Homo sapiens: one gene and its partners. The protein of the gene in region 1 purifies or fractionates together with the protein of each later gene. This does not show direct contact. Each region holds a gene or a part of one and is shown in the gene's direction. Other genes may lie near its edges. The genes, in order: RCBTB1, ABCD4, HELZ and HOXB6.

Evidence for each region.
Region 2: the proteins of RCBTB1 (region 1) and ABCD4 purify together in Homo sapiens (co-immunoprecipitation; one large-scale study listed by IntAct). This does not show direct contact.
Region 3: the proteins of RCBTB1 (region 1) and HELZ purify together in Homo sapiens (affinity purification with mass spectrometry, with the first as the bait; one large-scale study listed by BioGRID). This does not show direct contact.
Region 4: the proteins of RCBTB1 (region 1) and HOXB6 purify together in Homo sapiens (co-immunoprecipitation; one large-scale study listed by IntAct). This does not show direct contact.

What each region holds. Positions count from the first base shown.
Region 1 is NC_000013.11:49,538,986-49,544,626, reverse strand, and holds part of RCBTB1 (RCC1 and BTB domain-containing protein 1), read left to right. Parts: intron 1-2,799; coding exon 2,800-2,951; intron 2,952-3,620; coding exon 3,621-3,751; coding exon of another isoform or gene 3,752-3,760; exon of another isoform or gene 3,761-4,219; intron 4,220-5,641. UniProt on the Homo sapiens protein: May be involved in cell cycle regulation by chromatin remodeling.
Region 2 is NC_000014.9:74,284,839-74,290,479, reverse strand, and holds the end of ABCD4 (lysosomal cobalamin transporter ABCD4), read left to right. Parts: coding exon 1-189; intron 190-361; coding exon 362-453; intron 454-960; coding exon 961-997; intron 998-1,194; coding exon of another isoform or gene 1,195-1,325; exon of another isoform or gene 1,326-1,368; intron 1,369-1,714; coding exon 1,715-1,764; coding exon of another isoform or gene 1,765-1,820; intron 1,821-2,220; coding exon 2,221-2,273; exon of another isoform or gene 2,274-2,276; intron 2,277-2,593; coding exon 2,594-2,670; intron 2,671-3,663; coding exon 3,664-3,779; coding exon of another isoform or gene 3,780-3,806; exon of another isoform or gene 3,807-3,950; coding exon 3,951-4,019; 3' UTR 4,020-5,211; downstream 5,212-5,641. UniProt on the Homo sapiens protein: Lysosomal membrane protein that transports cobalamin (Vitamin B12) from the lysosomal lumen to the cytosol in an ATP-dependent manner. Targeted by LMBRD1 lysosomal chaperone from the endoplasmic reticulum to the lysosomal membrane.
Region 3 is NC_000017.11:67,185,001-67,190,641, reverse strand, and holds part of HELZ (probable helicase with zinc finger domain), read left to right. Parts: intron 1-286; coding exon 287-485; intron 486-945; coding exon 946-1,053; intron 1,054-2,025; coding exon 2,026-2,323; intron 2,324-5,606; exon of another isoform or gene 5,607-5,630; intron 5,631-5,641. UniProt on the Homo sapiens protein: May act as a helicase that plays a role in RNA metabolism in multiple tissues and organs within the developing embryo.
Region 4 is NC_000017.11:48,598,619-48,602,488, reverse strand, and holds part of HOXB6 (homeobox protein Hox-B6), read left to right. Parts: intron 1-147; exon of another isoform or gene 148-414; intron 415-825; exon of another isoform or gene 826-1,061; intron 1,062-1,943; exon of another isoform or gene 1,944-2,042; intron 2,043-3,870. UniProt on the Homo sapiens protein: Sequence-specific transcription factor which is part of a developmental regulatory system that provides cells with specific positional identities on the anterior-posterior axis.

The sequences.
Region 1 (5,641 bases):
ACTTAATATTTTTGCAGATAGTATCAGTCCATTTCATGTCAAAGAGTTTTTTGTGTACACTCATGGAGCGTTTTAGAAAAAGTGTAATGTAGGAATTTAAGTATTTGTCCATATTGGTTTTTTGTGTTTGTTTGTTTGTTTGTTTGTTTGTTTCTTTGAGACAGAGTTTCACTCTTGTTGCTCAGGCTGGAGTGCAGTGGCACGATCTCAGCTCACCGCAACCTCTGCCTCCCGGGTTTAAGTGATTCTCCTGCCTCAGCCTCCTGAGTAGCTGGGATTACAGGCAGGCGCCACCATGCCTGGCTAATTTTGTATTTATAATAGAGATGGGGTTTCTCCATGTTGGTCAGGTTGGTCTCGAACTCCCGATCTCAGGTGATCTGCCCGCCTCAGCCTCCCAAAGTGCTGGCATTACAGATGTGAGCTACCACGCCCAGCTTATATTGTTTTTTAAATTAAGAATCTGGTGAATACTCATTTCCATCAGAAAATTTATTTACGTGGTTAAAGAAAATACAAAAGGTTGTTATTGAAAAGTGTATATGCCCTCTTTTAATTATAGATTAAGCAGAAAACTCTCATAGGAATGCTGTGCTTCTGTTTCTAAGGGACATGCAATTACCAATTGAAGAATGTTCTAGGCTCAGCATGGTGGCTCATGCCTGTAATCCTAGGACTTTGGGAGGCCAAGGCGGGAATATCACTTGATCCTAGGAGTCTGAGACCAGCCTAGGCAATATAGCGAGACACTGTCTCTACAAAAAATAGAAAAAATTAGCCAGGTGTGGTGGTGCATTCCTGTAGTTCCAGCTGCTCTGGAGGCTGAGGTGGAAGGATTGCTTGAGCCCAGTAGATCAAGGCTGTGGTGAGCTGTGATCATCCTGGGAGACAGAGTGAGATCTTATCTCAAAAATGAAAAAAAAAGTTTTTAAGATATAGTTCCTTGTATAAATGTGAGGGACCTATGCGTTTATTAGTAACTGTTTGCCACAAAGGTTGCCATTGCAGAAAAAGGCACATAAGCTAAGACCATTAAAGTGGCCATTTACAAGTCTTTTTGGAAATTTAGGTAAAAACCTATTGGCAAAGAAATACATTTGAAAGGAACAGAAAAGCCCTATGTCATTCCTTACCTAAGGGAGTAAATATCTGAACCACAGTATTAATTGAAAAGATGAACTGGAACTGTTTCTGTCTGTGCACCTGTGGTCAACCAGTCTATTCCTTTCATGTACAGTTTTCTGACCATGAAATCCATGATTCTTTCTTAGACAACTATTTCTTTTTTATTTCTCAGGTAATTTTTTATGTAAGTGAAACTATTTTTTTAGTATTCTGAATGGATTCTTTTTCTTTTTTTTTTGAGACAGAGACTCATTCTGTCACCCAGGCTAGAGTGCAGTGGCGTAATACCAGCTCACTGCAACCTCCACCTCCTGTGTTCAAGCGATCTTCCAGCTTCAGCCTCCCAAGTAGCTGGGATTACAATCGTGCACTAACCACGCCCAGCTAATTTTTGTATTTTAAGTAGAGACAAAGTTTCGCCATGTTGGCCAGGCCGGTCTCAAACTCCTGACCTCAGGTGATTGAGGCTGACCTGCCTCGGCCTCCCAAAGTGCTGGAATTACAGGCTTGAGCCACTGCACCTCAGAATACTTTTTCTCTTTGTGCCGTATCTCACTTTAAAATAATTTAAAAATATGATTTTTAGAAAGATACAACTGTGTTATACATAAGAAAATCCAATATTCAGAAATCAGTTTCTTGTGCAGGTGGCTTTGTACATGTAAATACAGTGTAGGAGCTGCTCAGGTTTTCTTGAAATATCTGACTATCCTAGTGGATGTGAGTGTTTTATAAATAAGCTTGTAGCAGGCCTGGGAAGAGAGGAAGGGGAACAGGCAATGCAAAAAAAAAAAAGGAGTGATGGCTGTTTTGACGATAAGTCAGAAAAGAAGAAAAATTGTCGGATAATCAGACAATAATCAGCTTGATGTAATCCAGTTAACATATAAAACAGTTTTAAGAATATGCTTATTATGTAAAACAAAAAACAAATGAATCATTTTAATGTTGATACATAGTCAAAAGTTTTGAACTCTTGTTTCTGAATTTCTTTCACTTTATTGTTTAAAATGCATTTCTGTACATCATTTTAAAAAAAACAAAGGAGCAAAAAAATCTTGGGGACCATCAAATGGAAACAGTAGTGGAAGTGCTAGGTACTTCCAGGCTCTATGTATACCTATTAGTATTTAATAGGAGTTACAAAAAATGAAAGTGAGTGTATGTAAAAGGCATGTACAAAAACCACTTGCATGTGGAATGTTTTTTGGGTGCTAACTAAAGGTCTGTGATCCTGGTGTGTTCAGGCCCAGATAGTAGTTAATATACTTACTTTTTTTTTTTTTTTGAGACGGAGTTTTGCTCTTGTTGCCAGGCTAGAGTGCAGAAGCGCAATCTCGGCTCGCCACAACCTCCACCTCCCGGGTTCAAGCGATTCTCCTGCCTCAGCCTCCTGAGTAGCTGGGATTATAGGCATGCACCACCATGCCCAGCTAATTTTGTATTTTTAGTAGAGACGGGGTTTATCCATGTTGGTCAGGCTGGTCTCGAACTCCTGATCTCAGGTGATCTACCCGCTTGGCCTCCCAAAGTGCTGGGATTACAGGCATGAGCCACCACGCCCGGCCCAAGGATACTTCTGTTTATCTGATTTTATCAACTTAATTAGGTAATTTTTTTTTCTTTTTTAAAAATTGCTGCTGAACAAATAAGACTTTTGCTTTGCTGTTTTAGGTGTGAGCATTTTCGATCCATGTTCCAGTCGTATTGGAATGAAGACATGAAGGAAGTGATAGAAATCGATCAGTTTTCTTACCCAGTGTATCGTGCCTTTCTCCAGTACCTCTACACAGACACAGTCGACCTGCCGCCAGAAGATGCTATAGGTACTGTGGTAGCATTGGGATGGACGAGCCGCATGGTGGAGAATATATCCCCTCATATTCTTAGTCCTGAAATGTAAAAAGCTTCAGGTGTATTGGCTTTAATTTGGTGCTTAAAAAAGATTTGAAGTAAGTATCTTTAAAAGTAGTATTGTGTAGTTATTATGGTTAATAGTTTTGGACCTAGTTTATGACCATAGGCTTTTTTGTTCTAATGTTACTGAAGGACTTTTTTTTTTTTAATTTATTTTTAAGTTCTGGGGTACACGTGCAGGATGTGTAGGCTTGTTACATAGGTAAACGTGTGCCATGGTGGTTTGCTGTACCTGTCAACCCATCACCTAGGTATTAAGCTATGGGCTTATTTTAATTTTCTAGTAGTGAAGTATAAGTTGCTAATGCATTTAGCGTTTTAGAAACAAAATGAGGATTGAAATTGCATTTTTTGCTCTTTCTTTGCACTATTGAAGAAATTGTATAAAGTAAATATAGGAGAGGTGTGGAAGTGGAGGAGGCAGACAGTAAAAAAGAGAATTTATTTACTCAAATTCAGAATCTTATCCACTAAGAAACTTCTAATTTACCTGTACACCTCTGTTCACCAAAACAAAATCTCTGTGTATTGGAAATTATTATACATTTGATTAAACCTTTCACATATTTTACTTTTAGGTCTTCTGGATTTGGCGACATCTTACTGTGAAAACAGACTGAAAAAACTTTGTCAGCACATTATCAAGAGAGGAATTACTGTGGAGAATGCCTTTTCGCTATTCTCTGCTGCAGTCAGATATGATGCAGAGGTAACTTAAACAACAAACAGAAACCAGACCACCTTTAACTCCCTTTGTGCTCGTCTCCCCCGCTTCTTGCGTGAGGCATGGAAAACGATGAGTCACTCCACTTCTGTTTAGGGAATCAGTGAACCCATTGAAAACTGAAATCTGCCCTTGCTTCTTAATTCCCTGTTCATTGTTTCAAAAGTCGTTGTTCCTCTACTTTCATTTCTAAGTAAGACAGGAAACGAACCAAGGTCCTAGCAGCTGTGCTGCAGGTTGGAACATAAGGTGCCACAACTAATTGGACTAACAAACAGCATATTTTAGTTTCAAGTCTTTCTTAATGTCAGCATATGTGTTTATTTCGAGACTTACCTTGCTGTCTTTCCACCTCTGCCCTGTCATAAGCTGGGGATGTGTATGATTTGTATCTGTGTACGCTCTGCAATTCTATTAGTGTCTAATTACAGCTCACAGTTATTTACCTGTTAAGAACTTGCTGTGGACTCCTTTTGTTTTTGCACTGGGTTGAGTTCTTAATCTGAGATTCACAGATCTGTTGAGCCTGTGAATTAATGGGCTTTGGGGAGTCTGAAAGTTTGTGTGCATTTTTTTGAAGAACCAAAGCATCAGACTGTAAGCTCCTCGTGAGCAGGAACTGTCTCATTCGTCTGTATACCCTATAGTGCCTGGCACATATTAGGCACCTGATAAATGTTGAACTGGATGAAGATAGTACCTTAAAGGAAGCATTAAGGATGATCAGTGAGCTGAAGGCGGGTATGGTTGGTTTCACAGATTCAGAGAGAATAAAAGGTAGAGAGCAATAGCCTTGGAGTTTCAAAATATCTAGCTAAGTTGTGCATGTAGAATGTTACAATTAGCCTATCCTTGCAGATACTTTGTCATTTGACAAAGCAGAATATCTGGTATCAAGGAGTTTATCAAACACCTGCAAAGATCTGCAGCTGTGTCCTTTGAGGTATAAGAGGACACACTTCATCACACATAGGGATCAAAGTTGACCACGATGTTTTCAAAATGTATCTTATTTTTGTTTGAGGCTATATTCTGATTATAAATATTTGATAAGGTCAAATGTAGCTGACTTTGTCTGCAGCCCGACAACAGATGGAATGATGATCAAAGTAAATCATTTCTAATAGAAAATGGGGTATGATTTTTTTCCTGTCCTTCCTGTGACACCCTGAACCTCTTTATTAGAAAAGCTGTTTCTTTAGATTTTATTTCCACCCGGTGATATAATTTTAAATTGGGTTAGTGCCTTTTCTGTCCATTTGGTGACGGATGTTAGAATCCTCTCTGGGCCTCTCCACGCTCCTCCTCCTTGTTAACGAGTTCCATACTCAGGATCAGACCTTGCTGACTAACACCAGTGAGAACAACCTGGGCAGAGGCAGATGTCTCGGCTCAAGTTGCTGGAAACTTCTTCCTCACTTTTAGCTAAGATCTGTCCTAGGAAGTTTACAGAAAAAGCCTCTGCTGCTGCTTCCTGTGCCAGCAGGTCATTTCCTTTACTAGTTTTCATTTTTCTCATATTAAGTATAAACATGATAAAAACTTCCTTTAGAAAGACTCCAAATAAGTGTGATTCCCCAGAGTCTGTCACAGTGTGGGCATGGAGCTGGCGCTCAAAAATGCATGTTGAATTAAATAAATGAGTGAAAACATTTGAAATACCTCACCATGAAGGTGTGCTTAAAAAAAAAAAAATGGCCAGGCTTGGAGATCACGCCTGTAATCCCGGCACTTTGGGAGGCCAAGGTGGGCCACTTGAGATCAGGAGTTTGAGACCAGCCTGGCCAACATGGTGAAACCCTGTCTCTACTAAAAATACAAAAATTAGCTGGGTGTGGTGGTGCGTACCTGTAATCCCAGCTATTCGGGAGGCTG
Region 2 (5,641 bases), on another chromosome or scaffold:
CAGAGCCAGCAGACACAGCATTTCTCCTTGAGCGGGTCTCCATCTCTGCCCCCTCCTCTGACAAACCCCTAATCAAGGATCTGAGCCTAAAGATCTCCGAGGGACAGAGCCTGCTCATCACAGGCAACACGGGCACTGGCAAGACCTCCTTGCTCCGGGTTCTGGGTGGCCTCTGGACGAGTACACGGGGTGAGAGCCAGGCCCTCCCTGCCTCTGACCCAGCCTGGGCCCTAGGGGTGGGGTGAAGGCGGGGACGGTGTGGTAGAATCCATTCTTTTCTGTTGGGGAACAAGGAAGAGAGGAGACAGGCAGTTGCCTCTTCTGGGAGATCTCACAATGGAGGTTTCTGTGGGCTCTGCAGGCTCAGTGCAGATGCTGACGGACTTTGGGCCCCATGGGGTGCTATTCCTGCCACAAAAGCCATTCTTCACTGACGGGACCCTTCGGGAGCAGGTCAGTCTAGTTCAGGGGGCTCACTCCTCCCTCCTCAACCCCGCCCACCCACAGCTGGGACCTCTGGCACTGTGACAAGTCTCAGGTCCTAGAGTCAGGGCAAAAGGTGAGGTGGTGAAGTGGCCCGGGCCTGGGAACTGCTGGCTCTAAGAACCTTCTATTCACATCCATGGATTGGGCCCACTACTCATAGCAGCTCCTGAGGCAGGTAAATGGGGCAAGGACTCACGCCAAATACCACACGCGTATGTCAAACACCCAAGGTCGGATTCTGGGGCCCCTGCCCTCAGGAGGCTGTCAGACTGTTCCCCCTAAACACACTTCTGAAGGTTGTAGGGACCTTGCCCTGCTGTCTGCCGGCCAGAGCCTCTCCCATCTGACCCAGGCCAGGCGTTCCCACCTCTCCTCCTTGGGAGGTTCCAGTGGGTTCTGGAGGGAGGGTGGGCTGTGTGCAGCTCCGTCTTTTGCTCGCCCTCCTAGGTTGGTGTGGTTTTTTTCTTTTCTCAGGTGATATATCCCCTGAAGGAGGTCTACCCCGACTCAGGTGAGCTGGTCCTCCTTAGGTCATGTCCTCTCCTTCTGTCATGGTTGTCCCTGCTCTACCTGACTGTGGCCTCATCTGTGCCCTTGGGGAGAGGCTCCAGCCAGGCCGCTGATTCAAGGAAGAGGGGCTCCTCTCCTCTTCCTTTGACTGTTTTGGGGTCTGTACCCAGATCTCACCTCATTCTTTCTGTCCTTAAGGAGAGATGCCCACTGGGACAAGGAAAGTGATGCCTTCCTTCACCCACCCCTTCCCTTATGAAGATCTGCAACCTGTGGTTTCAAAGCCTTCGCCCAGCATTCTGAGGCCCCCACCCCTGCATCATCCATGATGTGCCCTGTCTATTCTTTTTTTTTTTTTTTTTTTTTTTTTTTGAGATGGAGTTTCACTCTGTCACCCAGACTGGAGTGCAGTGGTGTGATCTCGGCTCACTGCAACCTCCACCTCCCGGGTTCAAGCAATTCCCCTGCCTCAGCCTCTTCCGTAGCTGGGGCTACAGGTGCACGCCACCTTGCCTGCCTAATTTTTGTATATTTAGTAGAGACAGCGTTTCACCATGTTGGCCAGGGTGGTCTCCATCTCCTGACCTTGTGATCCACCTGCCTCGGCCTCCCAAAGTGTTGGGATTACAGGCGTGAGCCACTGTGCACAGCCTTGCCCTGTCTATTTTGACCAGCCAGGAGGCTCTGGCTTTTTGCAGAAGGCTTCTTTGTTGTGCAGGTTCTGCCGATGATGAGAGGATCTTGAGGTTCTTGGAATTGGCAGGCCTGGTAAGTGGGGAGAGGGACCCTCAGGACCCGAGCCCACCTGGGAGCACCAGCTACAGGTAGGCAGGTGCTGGCCCTGCTATGCTTGGGCCCAGGACTGGAAGTCTGAACCTGGGGTGGAGAATGGGAGTATCAGTTGACAGTGTGTGCTGTTGGCCAGGTTTAGGCACGAAGGGGGTAGTGCTCTCATTGGAGAATTTTAAAACAAGAATAGGATTGATGAAGGCGGTTTGCTTTTTACTGTCATCATGCTCCAGCAAGTCTAAACAGTGTCATTGGTAGAATATTCCTCTCTGCCTGGGGCAGACTGTCCCACAGTCCCCCGCCTTGGTATGCCACTGGGGCATATATTTGTCTTAGAGGTGTGTGTGTATGCTGGGGAGTGAGGGAGGTTCCCCATGATGGCAGGTAGCAGGGCTGGCCATTTCATGGACATCCTGCCCTCTGGGTCTGTTACAGTCCAACTTGGTGGCAAGGACAGAGGGCCTGGACCAGCAGGTGGACTGGAACTGGTAAGAAAAGAGCTTGGGTGCTCCAGAGATAGCCCCACCATAAAGACAGTGGGTTTCAGGGTCCCTGTCAAGGAATGGAACGGCTCCTGACCCCAAAGTCCAGATGTTTGGCTGGTCAGTCGGGTGCAAGTTTATGCCCTTGGGAACAGAGTTTTGCCTCACTCTGTGAGGGCTGTAGGCCTATGGTCGAAAGGGAAGGGGCTTCTGTCTCCTGGGGCTCACCTCTGTGCAGAGAAACCTCTTCCTACCCAGACCATTCTAGGTAAAAGCCAAGCTATATTCTTCCTCCTCTAGCAGTCCTCTCTCCTACCTTTCCTCAGGTATGATGTTCTGTCCCCGGGGGAGATGCAACGGCTCTCCTTTGCCCGACTCTTCTACCTGCAGCCGAAGTACGCAGGTGAGGTCTCGCCTTGTGGCTGCACATGCCATGCGCTGTCTGCACTCACGGGTGTAGCAGCATGTGTTCACAGGCACCCAGGCACACCTGTGAATGGCTGGGCTTCTCCGCATTCCCTGCTGGAGAGGACAGCAGGCCCTGCCCGTGTAAACAGTGCCTGGCATCGTCAGAGTTAACACTGAATATGCGGTACTGCCAGCTCATAAGCTTGCTTTTCTTCTGTTTTCTTTTTTCTTTTCTTTTTTTTTTTTTTTTTTTGAGACAGTCTCACTCTGTCACCCAGGCTGGGGTACAGGGGCACAGTCATGGCTCAGTGCAGCCTGGAACTCCCAGGCTTAAGTGATCCTCCCACCTCAGCCTCCTGAGTAGCTGGGACTACAAGCATGTGCCACCACACCCTGCTAATTTTTTTATTTTTATTTTTGTAGAGACAGGGTCATGCTATGTTGCCCAGGCTGGTCTGGAGTTCCTGGACTCAGGCCATCCTCCCACGTTGGCCTCCCAAAGTGCTGGGATTACAGGCATGAACCACTATGCCTAGCTCATAAGCTTTTTGCCTGGCAGCAGCTGGAGCCAGGAGCCAACATTGAAGGGTTATAATTTTATGCTCCTCTGGCTCCACCATCAAATGAATGGGCACCCATCCTCCTCTCCCACCAAGCTGTGCCTGGCAGGTGGATGGGTGTGGACTTTTCCAAAGACTGACATTCTTGCGGGGGACTGGGATTCCCTGGATTGAGTGGTCCCAGGGAGTGGCTGGTGCTTATCTATAGAAGCTGAGAGATTTCATGCAGCTGCTCACAGGCTATTCCCTTGGAGAGTCTGGCCCTCTGCTCCTCTGGCCCATCCTTCTCCCTGAGGCAGGGCTTCTGGAAGCCAGAGCAGCTTTCAGCCTCCCCTGGGTCCCAGCTGGGGTTGAGTATGGGTGGGAGGAGAAGCAGCGGCGGCAGAGGGCAGGGCTTTGATCTCTTCCTCTGTGCTCTGCCCCCTCAGTGCTTGATGAAGCCACCAGTGCCCTGACAGAGGAAGTGGAGAGCGAGCTCTATCGCATCGGCCAGCAGCTGGGGATGACGTTCATCAGTGTGGGACATCGGCAGAGCCTTGAGAAGGTACCCGTGCTCACAAGGATGGCCTGAGGAGGAGAAAGAACCCAAAGGCTCAGCCTGGCCAGGGCCAGAGGCCCCTCAAAACGGGGAGTAGCAGTAGCAGAGAGAACCGAGTGGCCTCCTCTGCCAGCGGCCAGGGCAGCCTGATCTCCATGTGGTGGTGGTCTCTTGTAGTTTCATTCCTTGGTTCTGAAACTCTGTGGAGGAGGAAGATGGGAGCTGATGAGAATCAAAGTGGAATGAAGCTCTGGCTTTTGGAAGGAGAGCCACACTGTGGCGGGTCGGCGGCCCTCAGGAGAGACCAGGAGGACTGACAGCGAAGATCGAGCTCAGGTTCGCCACATAGATCCCGTGCAGGAGCCACATGGGTCCTGTGCAGGACCCCTAGCAGTGGTGGGCTGAGCCCAGGTCTAGGTTTCTGTGGGGGACACTGAATCTCCCAGTGTTCAGTCTCCCAGGACTCTGCTGCCTCAGCCAGAGCCTCCATATGCTTGAAGTGCTGATTACCTACAAATGATTTCAGATCATGTTTGCTAAAGAGAAATCTGGAAGTGTGAGATCTGTAAGAAATGAAAGAAATGACTCTTGGAGTCAAGAGATCTGGAAATCTTTTAATCAGTTAAATTGTGCAGCAATAGATTTTTAACTTTAACTGACCATTTAAGTTTTTTAATAAGTTTTTTACAAAGAAAAGTTAAACATTAAAAAGAATTACAGCTTTCTGTCTTCTCTATCATGGAATGATCTTTTTTATTGAATCTCCAGATTTGTATTTGACAGCTTGGTGGGAAGGGAAGCACACTCTGCTGTTCTGGAATCTTATGCCCAGGGTTTTTCACTTCTCCCCACATCTCCCTTTCCACTTGCCAGTGTTGTGTAGTTAGAACCTGAACCACTAACTTCCAGGGGCCTTTGGTCTGCCCTACCTTAACCCAAATGAAAGTAAATCCCTTTCCCCTTAGCCAAAATAAGGTTGGGTTTTCTAAAAAAATAGTCTATATTAGGGAACAACAACAGCAAATTAGACAAAACCCAGAAAGCACAAAGCATGAGGTGGAGTTACTGTGCCCAAAGTCCTCACTCAGACCAGTGCCCCTCCAGTTCAGTTGTCTATGTATTACCTTCCTTACCTTCATAATTTTTGCCAGGCTTCTGTACTTCTAGTACTTGAGTTACTTAATATTTTTAAAAACAAACCTTTTAAGTTTAAATGGATTTTTAAGTGAAATTTTACACTTAACATAGATGGAAAGTAACTAAAAATAAATACAAGAAAAACCATCGGTGTTATTAACTTACGGCTAGATGCTGTTGCCTGCATAGACTCTGGGCCTGAGGCTTGTTCATTTTGTAAAAAAGAGAGGTGAGGAGTTAGACGGACTGGCACTCAACTGAGATTTTTCTCCTTAATAAAATCAGAAAGATGGAGTGAGAATTGTATTTTCTCACTGTAAAATATAAGATTATTTAACGCTTTCTTGGTACCACTTAAAAATGACTTACTCTATCCTTACTGACTTCTTCAGCTCCTAAGCCTTTTTCACAGACGCTGCTGCCGCTGCCAAGTTATTTTGTTTATTTTTATTTTTTATTATTTATTTTTGAGACAGTGTCTCACACCTCACTCTGTAGCCCAGGCTGTAATCTAGTGGCACAATCACAGCTTATTGCAGCCTTGACTTCCCGGGCTCAAGTGATCCTCCCACCACAGCCTCTCAAGTAGCTGGGACCACAGGCAGGAGCTCCTATGCCCAGCATCCAGATTATTTTGGAGACCAATTCATTCCTATCTCAGGGTCTTTGCATTTGCTGCTTCCTCTGCCTCTAACTGGTTTCCAGTGCTGTTCTGTTCTTAACACTTAGCC
Region 3 (5,641 bases), on another chromosome or scaffold:
ACTTTTCAGTGCCTCTTTTGGAGGGCCGACGTGAATACCTATGCCTTAGGATCCCCTAATTCCAGAGAAAGTCAGTGAATAATATGGGGAGCTGATGTTTTGGTTAACTGTTGTAAATGTTCTCTAAACCTCTTCTCCCTCCTTTGTACAAGACAGTACGATAAATATGGCCTTTCAGCACATGAAGTTTTGTTTTTATTGAAGAATCAGAGGGCAAATGCTGGGAGTTTATTTTTAAATGGTTCAACAAAGTATATGATAAAACAGTCTTTCCTATTCTACTTAGATTTTTAGAACAAGGAATCTGTAGGTATGGTGCCCAGTGTACTTCAGCACATTCCCAGGAAGAACTAGCAGAATGGCAGAAAAGATATGCTTCACGGCTGATAAAATTGAAACAGCAAAATGAGAATAAACAGCTCTCAGGCAGTTACATGGAAACCTTGATAGAAAAGTGGATGAATTCATTGTCTCCTGAGAAAGTGGTGAGGAAAATAAGCTACATTATTTTTTGTTTGTCTTAAACAATGAACTTGAGTCTTGACTTTATTGTGTGCTCTATTTTGGTTTATTTCCTTATCTTCTTTGCAAAGAACTTGATTCTGATAGAATGATGTTTTTAGTAGCTATAGTAGACCCATTTGTTAAAATGAAGAGCAGAACTAAACCACTTGTTTGGAGATTTGCCTGTACTGTATTAATTACCTTCATTCAGGCAGTTTTTGAGTGCCATTTTTGTGGTGGTGGTTAATTTTCTTTTCTCTCTTATTTTAGCTTTACTATATTTTGTTCTTGTCAAAATTACTGAAAATGAAGGTATAAAATACTTTGGTCTGTAAACAGTTCCATCATCATCTTAACTGTTGACATTTATTTTCCATGCTAAAAGATTTTGTTTGTGCCCTTAGCAATAAAAACATAACATAAATTGCTGTCTGTTTTCAGCTTAGTGAATGTATAGAAGGAGTAAAGGTAGAGCACAATCCTGACCTGTCAGTTACTGTCAGCACCAAAAAATCCCACCAGACATGGACCTTTGCTCTCACTTGTAAGGTATGAATTTTGTGCTAGTTAAAGCATAAAAGTTGTGTTTAATTTTCTGAACGTTTTTTTGACCTTTGAATCTCTGTGTTAAAGAATATTGAAAATATTTTAATCTAAGTACATTATATATAGGTTCTATATTGTACTAAAGTATATTTCTGTACTTTGATCATTAAAAGTACAATTTTAAAAATACTTTTAGATGAGATCTTTGTAGATATTTAGGGTGCTTTCATATTTATTTATTTGGTAAAGAGATCTTTGACATATTGTCTTCTAAACTTGGGACATAGGATGGGGTTCATGGCTTGTAATTAACTACTTAAAAATTGTTTATTCTAGTAGTTCTAAGATTTTTAAACCATAACAACTTGTTTTTATATTTGATATGATGAAGTCACAAATTCTGTGATAATGGGTTTTTAATATGGGGCATTTTCTGCAGTGCTTCCCATCTTAAATTATAGTAGTCAAAGTTTAAGATCGAAGCAAAGTAAAAAGTTTCTGTGAGTATGCTCAGTGGAAAAGTTTTTGTCTTTTTTGTGGCATTTCTTCTGCTGTACTTTCTGTATCTGGAGATGAAAAATCTAAGAACAGTTAGCTTCAGCCTTGAACCCAATCCAGTGCTTTCAGAGGTAACTGCCCTCTTACGAAGGCTTCCTACTTGAGGCTACATGAAACTTCTGTAGGTGAAGAGTATGGAAAGTTTGAAGGTTGATGGTTATATAGGGTGATAGCTTTTGCCACAGTGAAAAATGAACATGTCACAGGAAGAGAAGGGAGGCTAGCGATATAGCATAAATAAATAATTTTAACAACTGATTTTAAAAAACCATTCTGATTTTTTTCTTAAATGGCTATAGTATCTTAGAAGCTTGGGGAAGTAAAAGTCCCTTATGGAAATATTTTCATTGAAGAGCCCAATTACAATTGGATTTTTCACCCCCTTGTACTCAATGAATTATTTTAACTTCCTTGTAGCCTGCAAGAATGCTGTATCGTGTAGCATTGCTTTATGATGCTCATCGTCCTCATTTTAGTATCATTGCAATATCTGCCGGAGATAGTACTACCCAGGTATCACAAGAAGTCCCAGAAAACTGTCAAGAATGGATAGGAGGAAAGATGGCCCAAAATGGATTAGATCATTACGTGTATAAAGTCGGGATAGCATTTAACACAGAAATATTTGGAACTTTTCGCCAAACCATAGTTTTCGACTTTGGATTGGAACCAGTACTCATGCAAAGAGTAATGATTGATGCAGCTTCTACAGAAGGTAATATTTAGACTTTTTTCCCCCGATACAATGTGTTAAAAAGCAACATTCAAAGATATGTATTGGCCCCTGAATATATTCCATGGATAGGAAGAGAATAGTAATAAAGAAAAAAATCCCAACTTAATTGACTCATTTACTGTGTAATGGGCTTATAATGATTCACACTGTGCCCTGATTTCTTCACAGAGCCACCAGGTAAAGCTTGAACTTTGAGGTTCCCCAAACTTGTATGAGTAGATGATCAGACCTGTTTTGGTCTACCAGTTTCATTTCACAGTAAGATGGTTTTAGCACAGTAATATCTTTCAATATTAGTTTGGGTAGAATATCATTTTAATGGTAATTGTGTATATACCTACAATGTTTATTTTCATGTCCTATTGACTAGTTAACTTTGCTGATGTTAGTACATTGTTTCTGAATGAAAAGTCTTGAGTATAATAAGCCTTCATAAATCAGTTTGTGCATCCACTAGTGTTAAGGAGGCCAAGGGTGCCTTTAATCAAATCTGCTCTTTGTTTTTGGGAAGAGGTCCCTGGTTTCATCATGTAAGCATGACATAAGGAATTACTTTGTACATTGTCAATTTATTGCCTATATCTAAATTTTATGCCAAGATCCAACAGGACAAAGAAAGGACATGTTAGCCCACATTTCCTTTGCTCTTGGTTGGATTTATAGGTGTTCTATTCTATTTAACAAAAACTTTTTATTTAACAAACACTTCAAAAAGCAGAGCTGTGTGAAACTTGCTTTTGTATTGACTATAACTAACCATATTGTGGAGGACGTTTTTTACTATGTACCATAATGTCCCATTCATGAGAACCTAGAAGTAGTTTTTCTCATTAGCGAATGCTAGAATTTTATTTTTTTTCACATAGTGAAAAGGTGAAATTGGTCTGTCTTCCTCTTTACTTTAGCTGCTAGTAAGGTTGAAACAACGATGGTGCCCAAATTTAACAGTTAGGTGACATCTTCTTCTACGTGTGCTAAGATTACCCAGACTTCACTTTACCCTTATTTCCCACTGACTTTGATCCCTTTTACTTGTTTTTATTCTGTAGTATGTATTTTTGTCATCTTTTCAGTACTCTTTGGAATCAGAATAAATTAATTTCCATAGCTAAATAGATATGGTAGTTGATAAAATAAAAATAAAGTATTTGGCTTATATATATTAGCATAGTATTTGGCAAATTCTTTCTGCAGAGGGCCAGACGGTTAATATTTTAGGTGTTGCAGGGCAGGTGATCTCTGTTGCAACTACTCAGCTCTGCGTCGTAATGAGAAAGCAGCCATAGACAATGCATAAGCAAATGGGTGTGACTGTGTTCCAATAAAACTTTATTTTCAAAAACAATGGCTACATTTGACTTTCGTGTTGTAGTTTGCCTACCCCTGAACTAGTAAGTTGCTTTTAGAGACCAGACCTTGAGAACCACTAAGCAGCATCCTTTTTAAATCATAAAGAGATTTAAGTCATAAAGAGAGAACAACATACATTTCCTACTCTCAAATATAACTGTAAAGGATGTTCTTGGCTTACATGTGGGTTGTATTTTAGAAATTTGCTTGTAGGTTAGTGGCTTATAACTCAGACTCCTTTACCCATAGAAATGTTTGTAAGTGCTGTCAAGAATTCTTATTAGTTAGTAAAATATTTAATTAATAATATAAAATGTTAAATGTCTGCAGTAAAATGTAAAAGAACGATAGTATTAAAACATGATAATTAGAAAAGGTGGTGATGAAAAGGAGCTCAGGGTACTTTCATAGGCTTGAGAAGAGTAAAAGTACTTTGACTACTTCTGCCTCAGATACGAGTTACTTTTCTTGTTGGAGAAGAGCAGAGGACAAAAATCAGAGTCAAATAGAATAGGATTTGAATCCTGATTTTCGACTTATTGCCTGTGTGAGCCTGGGCAGAGTACTTAACTTCTCTGGGCTTCACGGGGAAACATCTGTAAAATGGGGCTAGTAATACCTGTCATAGATCATTGTGACAACCTGAAGCCTCGTACGACATCAGGCTCATAGTAGACGTTTAGTTAATAGTAGCTATTATGTTTATAATTAGCCTTGATTAGGATAATTTCTGGCTTATACACAAAAGGAAGAAAGTAGGAAAAGAGAAGAGTTGGGTTTTTTTTTTGTTTCTTTATTTTGTTTTTGTTTTTTAAAATGAGGACTCGGACTAGGGTGCAAGCAGAGGACTTAAAAAGCAGAGAGCCCTTGAGGCCACAGTGCCTGCAGATGTTGGCAAGAGAACACATTGTAGGAGTTGAAAGCGTAGTTTTCCAAGATGATTGATGTTTTGAGCCTGGTAGCTGGAAGAAACAAAGAATCTCCTTTCTGATATTTCTAACATATTAGTTTGAAAATTAAGTTTTACATTTCATTCAGATGTGGTAGAGAGGATTTATATAGACAAGGATATCCTCCTCTTTTTTCATAATACCATATCCTTTTTTTAGTGACTTCTTTGTAGTTTGATGTCTTTGCCTTTTTTCCTTTAAGATTTTACTTTTAAGTAGTTATGTGATAGAAAATAATTGAAAAAACTTAAGCATTTTCTTGGACTAATTTGGAAACATTAAAATGATTTCACATAGTGAAATTTGTTTAAAGACAAAGGAGAAATAACAAACAGTATGAAATCTACAAAATGCATTTTCTTATGTAAGATTTTGAAAGTTGGGGAAAGGAAAACTTAGATCTAGGTTTTAGGCAAGCTAGATGATATTGGGCTAACTTTTTTTGGTCATCAGCATAATGACTTATGCTAATTTTTAGCTCTTTGATAACTTCCCCACCCTTAAAATTGATGTCATTGAATATCTTACCATTTTGTTAACTCTTGAAATTTTTATTGCGTGACTACTTTTGTTTCATTGTGATTATGTGGAGAGTCCTAACAGAATTGTAAAGAAATAAAAGCAGAATATAAGTAGTGTAATATTTGTTTCTTGCTTTTATCTCAGTACTATTACAGTTAGTGTTTTTGATTATCACGGGAGAGTCCATGTCAGCAGAAAATATGTTTATGGGCAAACAATTTGTTTATGTGAAATTACAATTTTATAAAATGTTCTGAGACAATAAAAATGTAAAATGGCAGTGTCCTATTTTGTATCTTTTCCTGGAATACTTGTGTGGACAACATTCAGAGACATTGAGAGCAAGATAACTGCTTTGTTAAATTGGTGACAATCTGACAGCCTGGCTAATTTGATCTTCAGCCTCAGCCAGTTCATCATTGGATCTTCCTTGGCCTGGAATTAGGAGAAAAGTGTCATTCCAGGTATAAGTTGG
Region 4 (3,870 bases), on another chromosome or scaffold:
TAGGGCATATATAAAAAGGTCTAATTCTGCTTCCAGCGGGCAGGGGCCCTGAATCAAAGGGTGGAGGGATCAGAGCCGACACCCCCACCGCCATCCCCACCCCCACCCCACCAAGGCGCGGGAGAGGATGAGGCCGCTTGAGACATCCGAAGCCAAGGCTGTTCAAGGTTTATTTGGTTTTCTTCTCAGCCAAGGGAGGGGACCCGCAGGGCAGGCGCCGGCCCCGTCAGTTCCACTCGGTTGTCAAAAGACAAACCGGGTCTGTGTTCTCCTGGTTGGTTAGTGGGTTTTGCCAGCTCCTTGGTTGGTGGGTCCGTGGTGAAGGAATTGAACCGAATTTTCTGGAAACTGTTGATGTCTGCAAGTGAGTGCCGATCCCCTCCTCCATTCTCGATCTTTTCAAGCGAAGTCTACCTAAATATGATTTGGGAAAAATTTGGTAGTGGGACTGGGGCCAAATCCTTAAGGAACCACACCGTCGTAATTTCCGTTCCTGTTGGACCCTCCACACCGGCTTAACTCGACCTCCTTCCCAAGAGGGGGTGGCCAGGGCTAGGCTATGCGCCTCTGCTGCAGCGTTTGAATATTGGCCCCTGTCTCACGGGTTACTGATTAGCTTGGGCTTTCAAGCCGTAGGAGGAAGCTCTGGCAGTTCCTTTAAAGGTGCTGTGGTCCCCGTTCCTGGGTGGGGGTGGGGTTCCAGGAAATTGCCTGCGGTGCCAGGCAAACCAAGGTGTTGCCAGAGTCTGGCCGAGGGCTAGAGGAGCTGACGAGGTTAAGGGGCCTGGTGGTGCTGGGGACAAACACTGTGGCTGCAGCCCTCACCCTCTTTCGGCGCCTCTGGAGCAGCTCTTTATAGCTTTCCTGCGGCGAGGTGACTTTCTGGTGGCTATAAGGCCCGACTCAAGGAGCTGCTCTATAGGAGGCCCTGAGGGAGCCAGCCCTAGAAGGTCCTTGGCCCCTCTGAGATTTTGCTTTTGGGCAATCCAAAGGACATGTAGAGAAGTCAAGCTGGTACATGGTATTGAAACACTTCAGGGCCCTCAGGTTGTCCCCTGGACCTGCGGGTAGGAAACCGGGAGAGTGGGTTCAGCACTACTGCTCACTCCCCTAAAGATCAAAGAGGATGCCGCTCCTTTGCATAATGAAAATGAAGTCTTTGTACTTTGATTTGGAGGGGCCGATTTTAGGGCAAAGTGTCTCATCTAAACAGCCTCCCTCAACCTATGGGAGTGATCACTCAGTACCCCTGGGAACATTTATTTATGTTCCCCAAACCCAGAGAAACAGAGTCCAGGACGAGAATTGAGTTGAAATATTTTCATCCCACCCCACCCCAGCCAAAGTTGGGGGTGGTGGGAGAAGGTGCTCATCACCTCAAAGAGCTGAGGGAGAGGGCTTTATAGCTTAGAGGAAATTGGAAGCCTGGACAATGTCTCAGCACCCTCCCACACACACCACACCACACCACACACACACACACACACACACACACACGCAAATATCCCTCCTGAGGTTACCTATCAAGAATTTTACTCCCGAACTGAACACAACTTAGGAAACATTTTCCTGGGAGCTGGAATGTGTTAGCTTGCCCACAGGACTGCAGACTCACAGCATAGAAAATTACAATTATAAATCCTGCCTGTGGGGTATCTGTACAATCCCTCTGTTATGTACTCAAGAATTGGTACACACTTCTATCCATCTCTCTGAACACACACTTCCTCATTGAGGCAGGGAGAGACACCCCAGACTGGCGGATGGCTGAGCCCGCTGTGTATTTACATATTCCCCCAAGGAGACAGACAGAGGGCGGTGGACCGAACCACAGACAGATTCGTAGGGATCTGGCTCCAGAAAGGAGTCGGTCTCTGGCCTGCCCTGCCCGCCTGCTCTTTTTCCCAAACAAACGGATCAGACGAATAAACGCTCATAAATACCTCTGGGCTTAGATAAGAGCGATGAGGCGCTATTTTCTTTCATGCCCGACTCCAGGCGCCCAGGCCCGCCTGTAGTGGCTCCATCTCCAGACAAGCAACCTGCAGAGGTGAGGTTAATTTGGGGGCTGTGACTCTAAAGATAAGGCAATTATTTCCCTGCTTCTGACACAGGGAAATGCTCCCTTCCTCACCAGATCTTATTTTGTTCAGACTTCACTGAGAAAACCACACTATTTAGTGCTAGGATGGAGACATTGTGGGCAGGGAGGAGGCAGGGAAGGCTGAGGCCCAGGGCTCAGCCTCAGCAGTAGGCAGGGAGGTGCATGCAGGTACTCTCTCCCACTTTTCTCCCCCTGTTCAAATGGCCCCTAGTCCTCTCTAGAAGCAAGCCCAGCCATACCTAGATATGGAATATTTATCCTTCTTCATTATCAGGGGGTTTAAATTTGTTTTCTTAAATGCTTATCAAACACTCCCACAGAGTCAGGTTAGGAAGTAATTGGAGGCCATCTAGGGATGGCTATTTTGCCATTAAGGTACAGCCAAGAAGTTGCCCTGAGTTTAGAGAGCCTTGGAGACCACGTTGCAACCAAATAAGTTCCCACCCTTGGTGATCCAAGCTCAGTCCCCTGCCACCTTCCCTAGTGTCTTGTACCATCTTCAGTGGGCAGAACTTGGCCAGAAAAAGGAGCCCAAAGGAAGGACAAGGCAGAGGAGGGTCAGCCTGGCCTGACATCTGACTTTGTTCCATGCCCTGGCCCCTTCTTGTCCCCAGGTGTGAAGGTTGTCACCCTTCACTACTTGGCCTGTGTATGTATATTAGAATGTTGGGAATGCACTGTGGCCCTGTCTCCCAGCCTGGGCTCAATGCTTATTTTCCTTGGATGAAAGAGCCAGAGACATACATTCTCTGACACACCTAAATTTGTAAGGCGGCAAAGCTGATGATACAAACACGGGGTGTGGGAGGGAATTGTAGCGATGCTGAGATACAGACAGAAGGGAGAGGGGATGCTGGCTGATGGCTGGAAGCAGCCTGCTGAGTCCCCAAGAGAACGCAAACGACCTTCTCTCCCTATCAAACTAAAGCAAAAACCAAGTCTTGGGAAAGAATTAATTTTAAAAAGAACTGGCAGCTCCTACAGAGACTTAGAAGAGGAGTGAGGATGCATTTCTTCCCAGTGGTCTCTGACTGCCTCAACTATCAGGAGGGTTCAAAGCCCACAACTGGAAGAAGAATGATTTCTTCCTTGTGCCCAGATTTACTGGGACATCCCTGATTCCTGAAAATCCTATAGCCCAGGCTATTCTTAAGTCTTTTGGGATTGTAGAGGGTACTGGAGTGAGGGTTGCAGGCAGGATAGGGATCAGACAAATAAAGCCACCTAGGCTGAGGGATACCCCTCACTCCTTCACTCCATATCACCAAGTGAGGAGAGGGCTAGTCCCTTTCCCCAGTGCCCCTTCCCCTGCCAAGGGTGAGCAGCTGCATACTAGAACCAGGCAGAATGTTTTGGGCAGCCACCCTCGTCGCCGCCTTCCAAGAAGCTCCTAGTCTAGCCACAGAGTCAGAAGGGGAAGCTTGGGCTCAGTCCCTCCTGCCAGCTCCTCCTCTTCTGGGTCTTCTAGGCAGTGGGATCTGGCCTGCCCCCTCAGACCAGAAGGGTTGTGGAGAAGCAGGAACAATAAGCCGAGGCTTGGAGGAGACAGAGCAGATCTGATAAACAGGAAAAACGATGTTCAAAACCTGGGGAGGAGGGTGTTTCTTCTTTGCTTATCTTAGCGGAGAACTCTTCTCACCTTCTACCGACACAAAACCCTAGAAACAAACCTTCTTTAGTTCTCTCTCAAGGCGATTCGGAGACATTTACCCAACCCTCCCCGGAGAGAAGGGGTCGAAGCAACGCAGGGGTTAACTTTTCTGAAA